2 separate regions of the Homo sapiens genome follow, and region 2 is linked to region 1. The links come from fine-mapping of genetic effects on gene expression. A gene starts in region 1. The other region holds a variant in brackets. All regions are shown on one strand. Distances are from middle to middle.

The links.
Region 2: its variant is fine-mapped to the expression of RREB1 in monocytes after interferon gamma (Fairfax 2014, PIP 0.95).

The regions. Positions count from the first base shown.
Region 1 is chr6:7,106,207-7,110,587 of GRCh38, reverse strand. It overlaps RREB1 (ras responsive element binding protein 1), which reads right to left and starts at 2,627. Exons shown (of 13, transcript NM_001003699.4): 1 at 2,528-2,627. RefSeq lists silencers at 1,259-1,348, 1,369-1,858, 2,649-2,868, 2,929-3,408 and an enhancer at 3,759-3,818.
Region 2 is chr6:7,251,764-7,256,144 of GRCh38, reverse strand. It overlaps RREB1 (ras responsive element binding protein 1), which reads right to left. Exons shown (of 13, transcript NM_001003699.4): 13 at 4,165-4,381. Among named protein-coding and RNA genes, the nearest start is that of SSR1, 59 kb to the left of the region's middle. The variant C/A (reference allele first, on the strand shown) is at 2,647.

The sequences.
Region 1 (4,381 bases):
ATCAGTGTAACCAAAGCTCAAAGCACATCAAAGCAGGACCCATCAGCGGGTACCCAGAAGGCTCCCTCCAAAGGGCGGAGGTAAACACATACACACACACACACACACCACCCCTAAAATTAGTGATTCTGTCTTTGTATAAATTACTTGTAGAGTAGCTCGAACCCATTCCTTCAGAAGTTCTGTGGACTCTTGAAGATAGCACAAAACTCAACGTTTGTTTTTCAAAGAGGTTTTAGCCAACACTTTGGCCTCTATCTAACTCAGACTTCCGGGTTGAAATATGTCTTAGAAACTATACCTGCCTACTTGAAAAAGCACCAAATCTAGAGGATGATTTTCATGGGTGTGAAAAAACAAAACTAAACCACATTCTTTTCTTGGCAGTTCTCTTTTCCCCACCTTCCACTTCAATTAAACTTATTTCAGAATCAACTCGCACACATGCAGGGTCCACTACATATATAAAGGGGAAAAAAAATATCAAAAATAATGGAGATGCACTAGCAACTCTGCCTTTGCAGAAATCATTTCTTCTTAAGACAGAAATTCCTCGCTATTTCCAGCAACACCATTCAACAGGCAAACTTTATTTCCACTGGCTTTTAAAGAGCTAAGCTTAAATCTAAACTCTAAGAGGGTTCAATTTTCTACTAATGAAAACCCCCGGACAGGTTTTTCAACATACCAAAACGTTATATTTTTTTATTCACCCTTTTGTCTCTCTCCACATCCACCACCATCACAAGCAGCAGCAGCAGGAGCATCCTCAAACGAAGAAAACCCCTCCAAAGTGCCCCGAATGTGTGCTGCTGCTGGCTCTGAAGCCGTGTAGAATTTCGTAATGGAATGTGAACTGCTCGTCCGGATCTGGGCTCACGTTCTATCTCCTAACCAGTAAGGAGCGAGGGAGGGCAAATCTGCTGAGCAAGGAGAAATACTTTCCTCCTCTTTTATAACCCATCACGGATGCACGGCGGCCGAGGGGCGCGAGCTGCACGCGGCGCCTGTCAAGCGGCCCGGGCCCGCACCCCGTGGGGTCCCCGCGTCCCCCAGCTCCCCGCCCCGCCCGGAGAGAAAGGTGGCCTCGCCCATCGGTGGGCTCGGCCGACGCGCCCCGCACTCACGCGCGGCCGCGGAGCAGGTCACATCCTCGACGCGCCCTTGGCCCGGTCCAGAAAACACGCCGCTTCCCAGGGAGGGGGTCGGCGACGGGAAGGACCTCCCCTGCTCCTTAGCAACCATTAAGGTCGCAGTTTCCTAAGAGACCGCGAGCGGGGAGGGGGCGCGGGGGGCCCGGCCCAAGGCTTGTGCGGGAAGTTGGGGGCGGGGGGGGCAGCAACAGGCCCCCTCCCCCCACCCAGCTAGACGCCGGGGGCCGGGATGGGAGGAGGAAGGGAAGCCCCAGAACTCGTGAAAAACTGGTCCAGCGGGCGGCGGACAAAAGTTTCCGAGCGCGCTCCACAGCTGGGCGGCGGAGCGGGCCCCGGCGGCCGGCCCCGCCTCGGATGCTCCCGGCCTCCTTCCTGTGCTCGTGACGGCGCCGAGCCCCCCACCCCCCCCGCCCGCGAGGCAGGCTAGCTCCACACCGAGGGCTCCCACGAAAACACTCACCCCGCCAACGGAAGGGCGAGGGAACAATACGTGCCCGCACGGCTAGGGCCCGGTCCCCTCCTCCCCAGGCCCCCCGGGGCGGTGGTCGGCGTGACCACGACCGCCAGCCGGGAACCCGCGAGGGCGCGGGGCTGCCCGCGGCCCCCTCCCGGCCGGCGCCGTCCGCCCGGGAGGTTCAAAGTCCGCAGAGCAGGGCGCGGCGGATGCTCCCACCGAGCAGCCCCGAGCAGGCACCCCCGCGCGAGCACCCCGGGCAGGCACCCCCGGATACCTTAGGGCGGCGGCGGGAGGGCGGGCGCCGTCATCTCCGCGCTTCCCGGCCCGAGAAGGACTCGAAAGTATGTAGGAGAAAAGTTTCCCCTCCCACATGGGGGGGAGGATGTCGAGGGAGAGAGGGCGGAAGATGGAGAGCAGCGCTGGGAAGATGTTTCTGGCCGGCGGTGCGCGCACCATCCGAGTCCCGGCGGTGCTGGTTAAAAATAAACTCGGCGGCGCGGGTCGGGCCGGATTCCTGCGCTCGGACGGCTAATATGGATGCGCATCAGGTCCTGCTGGCGGGGCGCTGCGGCGGCTCGCGCTGGGAGCTGGTTGGCAGAGCCGGCGGCTCGGGAAAGGGAAAAGAGCGGAGGAAGGGGAGGAGGAGGAGGAGGAGGAGGAATGGCCCGGCGCGCAGCCCGAGGGGAGAGGGCTGCCCCGCTCATCCCTGGCCGCCCCGCCGGCCCGAGCGCACGCTGCGCGGAGTGGGGCGTGCGGGTCCCCGGCTCCGGGACACACCGAGTTTCAAAAGTACAACGCGCTCTGCAGACTTCACCCTCCCCATCCCCAAAGTTCTTTAAAAGGTCGCTCCGGCTGTGCCCCAGACTTCTCGCTGCCGCCGGCGTACCGCGAGTCGGAATCCGGGGCACGTACTTACGGCCGGGCAGGACGCTTGGCTCCCTGGCATGATGCGTTGGGGACCGGTGGGCTTCAGGGAGAGACCGAGGAGAGATGCAAACTTGTTCCGGAAAAGGAATCAAAATGGCGTTTCTGGATGTGCAAAGTTCATCAACTCCGCAGTCACTTCCCCTCCTCCTCTTCTCCCACAGGGAGGGAGGTGGGCGAGGAGCTGGCGACCCCGGCGCCCCAGCCGTCGTCCCGGCCCCCGTCTCGGCCCCCCGCCCAGCTTCCTCGCCCGCACGCTCGGAGTCTCGCTCTCCCCCTCTCACCCTGATAAGTAGACACATCACGTGTTGCTCCTGCGAGTCTCCTGGGGACGTGTTACTGAGCGGCCGCGGCGGCGGCGGCGGCGGCGGCGGCGGCGCTCGGACTGGGGGGGGTGAGGGGGAGGACCGCCGCCCCCGCCCCGACTTTAGCAGGGTGACCGCAGTTGCCATCCCGGGATGGATGGAGGTGGAGTCCCCTCCCCACCCCCCACCGCAGCCCCAGGTTTGCCCTACGCCCTCCCAAGGCGCCCCGGGCCATGGGAGGGCCGGGCTGCCCGAGGGGAAGGGTCCGGGAGGCCGCGACTGGCTGCGATCCCAATCGTCCCGTTGCTCGCGGGCCACCTTATTCGGCCACCGCGCCCCCTCCCCTGCAGCCCCTCGCCGCGGGCGACTCCCCGCCCCCGGCTTTCCATCACTTCACTCCGCAGTTTCACTATTTTAACGGAGGCGGGGGAGACACGGTGATGCCTCGGAATTGCGAGAGGGGCACCTCAGAGGCGCTGGAGTTGGGGGGATGGGGGGCGTAGGGCTCGGGGCCCTGGCCTGACGCCGCCCCTCTGGGTCTCCGAGGCATCTGCGAGGGGGAGCCCCGCCCGCGCCGTTTCCTTTCCACGCGGTCCTCGCTCTGCATCCAGGTGGGGCGAGTGGATGATGGGGCAGGAGATTAAGGAGCAGGCGCTTCACCCCGCCCCTAGCTTCGAGCCGTTTCTCTCCCGGGGCCATCCTTCTTACTCGGGCTGCCGCCCTGAGTGTGCTCGCCGTCTAACAAACTCAACTCCGACCCGACTTTGGTCCCCCTCCCTTACCCACACCCCACAAAGGATGCTTCAGCGGGGAACTGCCGTGGCCGCCAGGGGCTGAGGACGGTTCCTGCCGCCACTGTGTCCCCACCCCGCGATGGAATGGCTGATGCTGTGTCATCCACGTCGCCCTCCAAGGCTTCAGAGAAGCCACACGCAGTATCTCTTTCTCTCAGAGGGCTCCTGTTTCAACTCTGAAAAGCAGGGGCCCTTCTCCGAGCCGCTCTCCATCTCTCCAGCTCCTGCCACCACGCTTCGCACTGGCTGCCTTGCCCCAAGTTATCACGGAGCCCAGAGAAACCAGGCCTGGGCTGTGCTTCCTCCATAAAGCAGCTGACATGTTTCCAACTGTTAATACTTCTCCTACCGAGGTTCTGAAAGGGGTCTGTTCTCAGCCTTTGGAAACATCTTCAGAAAGATAAGGATGATTGTGGTTGTTGAAAATAAACACGCCCCCCCCCCCCCGCCCCCGTAGTTCTAAAGAAGAATGTCCAAAGAATACTACAGTAGAATTAAGCGTTTGAGTCTGGTTAGGCAAGATGATGTTATGCAGGCAGAAAGCTGGCTACTTTCTATTTACTATGACCTTTGACCCTGGCTCCACCACACCAGCTCCTCTGAGAAGGCTTGAACACCATGGAGAGTTGTAAGCCCAACTGTGGGCCTTTAATTTGAGCCCTTCCATTGACCTCTAGTTTTCAGGGCTGCAGACAGAAGTGTCTGTCTCGGGATGGGTCCTGGCCAGAATAGAACTCTTTAGAACCA
Region 2 (4,381 bases), 150 kb before region 1:
CTGATGCCTCATGGAGGACAGATGAGCCATCCCTGCAGAGCCCTGCCCAACCCACCGAATCCTGACCCAAAGTTTTGGTGTTCTTCGTCATGCAGCAAAAGAGAACTGGAACAGTTGGGAATTTACTCAGTGACCCTGGGAATATGTATGCCAAATATCTATGTGCCAAATCACAACAGTGCCATGTTTCCTAGAGGCCACGCATTCCTAGTTTTCAGTAACTCCCTTTTCAGTGGACGACACACACCACCCATTCTTGGGGACTTCTGTTTTAGGATTTTTCTGGTGGAGAATTTCATCCCAACAAAAGCACTCAATAGCCAGCTGACCTGGGCAAATCATTTCAATGCTCGTCCCTGCTCTGAAGGAATAAGGATTTTTTTTCCTTCACAGCTCACTGGACTTGGGTGAAGAAAAGAAACAAAAACCACAGGAAAACACTGCAGTGTGCAAAGTCCTGTACAAACACATCTGAGAATGAGGAAGGGAAAAGTGAGGCCCAATGAAAAGAGCAACACTCACCAAATTAACACGGTATTTGAGAAGCGAGATGACTTCCTTAATTTTCTTTATATTTTCCTGAAGCTCCTAAATTTTCCACACTGAGCAAGGCGTTACTTTTACGTAAATTCCCATAAAAGAGTCATGTCAGATCCATGGAGGAAGGCAGGGCTGGGGAGCAGCTGAGCCCCTTGCTGGCCCCACAGCCTGGGAAGCAGATGCCACCGTGGGGACATGAATTCCTGCCCTGACAGCTGGGCAAGACTTGAAGTGGTGAACGGCAAGGGCCAGGGATGTCACTTCCCCACTGGGCTGTGGCTTCCTTCCCCTAACAGTAAAACGGGAAAGGAGTGACCGCTTGTTTCTTATTTAGGACACTGACTCTGGCAGTCTAGAATTGGAGGGGACTCTTTTGTTGCTAAAGAGCAACCTTCAATTACAAGCTTAAAATAAGCCTAGTCATCCTCCCTCACTCCTGTCCTCCTCAGGGAGGTGGTTATGAAGGGGAGAGGCCTGAGCGCTCCAGGCCCAAGGCTTAACACCAGGACAGGCAAGCAGGCAGCTGGCGCTGTTGGCCAGTGGTTGGAGGCCCCACTCGCTCCTCAGCCCTTTCAAAGTAGCCTTTGGAATCCACAAGGATGGCAAACAGGCAGAAACCCCAAACAAGACTCTTGGGGCACTCGGGTTTAGGCAGTGGCTGAGTCTGTGCTGGGGCTGGAGTAGGGACTGTGGAAGGAACCTCTGGAGGGCCAAGATCGGCACTCTCTAAAGCCATATGTGGCTTCTGCCCACTCATTCTGAGATGGATTCTGTCTTTGAGGGGGAGAATCCACAGCCGTCTCTGCAGCCAGCTGCCGAGTCCGCCATCCACCTTATTCTGAACCAAGCTTTGGGGTCTAGACCGGAGCTTCTCAAACTTCAATGTGTGCACATATCCACTGTGGCCCTTGTTCACATGCAAATTCTGACTCAGCAGGTCTGGGTGGGTCAGAGGTTCTCATTTCTTTTATTTTTTGGTTTACGTTTTTATTTTTGTGAAGATGCGATCTCGCTCTGTCAATCAGGCTGGAGTGTGAACATAGCTCACTGCAGCCTTGAGCTCCTGGCCTCAAGCGATTCTCTTGCCTCAGCCTCCCAAAGTGCTGGGACAACAGGCATGCACCACCGCACCAGGTCAACCTGAGGTTGCCATTTCTAACAAGCTCCCAGGGATGCTGATGCTTTGGGTCTTCAGACGACACTCTGAGCAGTAAGGTAACAAGGGACTAGGCCTCATCCTGGGTGCTAGGTCTATGCCGCCAGCTCCCCCATCCCCATGCCCCATGCCCTCCTCCAGTGGAGGAGGCTTTGGTCCAGGGTGGGGATGCTGGATAAGCACCAAGGCCCAGGCAGAGTCCTGGGGCCATGGGGAGGTCACAGGCTGAGCGGGAAGGTAGTGGGATTACAGGGCCAGAGGAGGCCAGGTAGGAGAAGGTGACAAGACTCCCTGGGGTTCAAAGACAGTGCCTGCATCTTGGTGATCTCCCACAAGGCCCTCCTCTGGCTGTTCCCCGCACTGTGCCATGAATGTGTGTGGTGAAGTTCTACCTACTTCCTCACCAGGCAACCAAGGAAGCATTCCCATGAGAAGACTGTAGAAACAATAACGAGAGCCCCTAACATGCACCTTATGTAATTAACTCATAGCATCCACACAACAGTGCCCATGAGGCAGGTACTATCGCTATCCCTTTCTTAGGAATGGTGAAATTGAGGCACAAGGCCATTCACCAGCCCGAAGAGGCAGAACTGGGATTGTCATGCCAGCCAGCTTGTCCCCAGCAACACAGCTCGTGGCCACTTCTTTGTCCTGCATCTCTAACACAGCGCAGGTGGTTGGCTATGTCTTTGGGCGGAGGACCTGAGGTTTGAGATCCGCTTACCCAGGGCTAGTACATCTCCACCTGCCACCGCCCACTCAGGCATGCGGATCCCCCAAGCTCCCACATATAAATGTGTGTTAAATTCTACGTCTTTCAACAGAGGGGCCTGAAAAAGCTTAAGGACCACAGCCACAGCTCTGGTCCTGCAGGGAGGTGGCACTTAGCAGTGTATGGTACAGTGCACTCAATGCATTTTAGCATTATCCACAATCAGCCTCCTCCA[C/A]AACCAACTTCTTTCAGTGTTCGTTTTTTTTTTTTTTTTTTTTTTGAGACAGTTTCACTGTGTTGGCCCAGGCTGGAGTGCAGTGGCGGCATCTCGGCTCACTGCAACCTCTGCCTCCTGGGTCCAAGGGAGTCTCGTGCCTCAGCCTCCCGAGTAGCTGGGATTACAGGCACACACCACCACACCCAAATTTTTTTGCAGTTTTAGTAGAGATGGAGTTTCACCATGTTGGCCAGGCTGGTCTCGAACTCCTGACCTCAAGTGATCCTCCCGCCTTGGCCTCCCAAAGTGCTGGGATTACAGGTGTGAGCCGCCACTCCCGGCCCAGTGTTTGTTTTTTTGAGATGGAGTCTCACTCTGTCGCCCAGGCTGGAGTGCAGTGGTGCGATCTCGGCTTAATACAAGCTCTGCCTCGCGGGTTCACACCATTCTCCTGCCTCAGCCTCCCGAGTAGCTGGGACTATAGGCACCTGCCACCATGCCTGGCTAATTTTTGTATTTTTAGTAGAGATGGTGTTTCACCGTGTTAGCCAGGATGGTCTCAATCTCCTGACCTTGTGATCCACCCACCTCGGCCTCCCAAAGTGCTGGGATTACAGGCGTGAGACACCGCACCCAGCCCCCAGTGTTGCTTTTTGAGAGCCACTCCCTAGTTATAGGAGTTGAGGCTCTGCTAGGAGTTGGGGCTCTGCTGATTGCTATTTTACCCAAATGTGAGTTTTAACCTGCACCATCCCCAGCCCTAGGGTTGCTGTCCCCTCCCGTCTCACCAAAATCTGGTCACACTAACAGATTTTGTTCTCCCTCCACTAGGTGCTGACTCAATCACTTACCACTGGGTTGGAGGAAGAAGAGGCGAGGCGGACTTCTTAGGCATTATTGCACAGGAAACAAAAATGCTGGCTTTAGCCAATGACAGAGTGGCCTGCACTGTGGTGCCTCATTAGGTCCAGCCTCCTGGCCCTGTGCACCCAACACCAAGATCTCCACTCTGAAGCTCTGACAGTGGCCATGCACTTAACTTTCCACATGCTCTCAAAGCAGCTCTCACAACTGCAGCCGAGTGCTTTTACATACAGCAGGGTCTTGCTGTGTCCCCCAGGCTGGAGGGCAGAGGAACGATCGTAGCTCATTGCAACCTCAAACTCCTGGGCTCAAGCGATCCTCCTGCCTCAACCTCCCAAATAGCTGGGACAACAGGCATGTACCACCATGCCAAGCTAGTTCTTAAACATTTTTTTCTAGAGATAGGGGTCTCACTATTTTGCCCAGGCTGGTCTTGAACTTCTGGTTTCAAGTGAATCTCCTGCTTTGGCTTCCCAAAGTGCTGGGAGCATAGGCAAGAGTCACTGCCACAGCCTCCAGCGCAAATAAAAATGCTGCCTGGGTGACAAGAGCTTTCCTGGGCACCTGTGACTCCCCCCAATGGTACTGCACACCTGGGACCTGCCCCAAGTGGGCTGTGGGTTTGGGGATGGGATCACAACAAATCACAGGACGGCCACGTGACCGGCAATCTGCAGCTTTTAAAATATAACATTTATTGCTTAAATGGTTTGATACAGAACAGCTTTCTTCTCATTCTGAATTTGGAAGTTCTATACAACTGAATACAAAGAGGAACAAAAAGTACCAAAACCAAACTTGTGATTCTCTGTTCATGTGGCATAAACCAGTTTTGTACATAACATGTAGCAGCAGTTTTTAAGTTCCCTTTAGAAAAATATGAATTCTA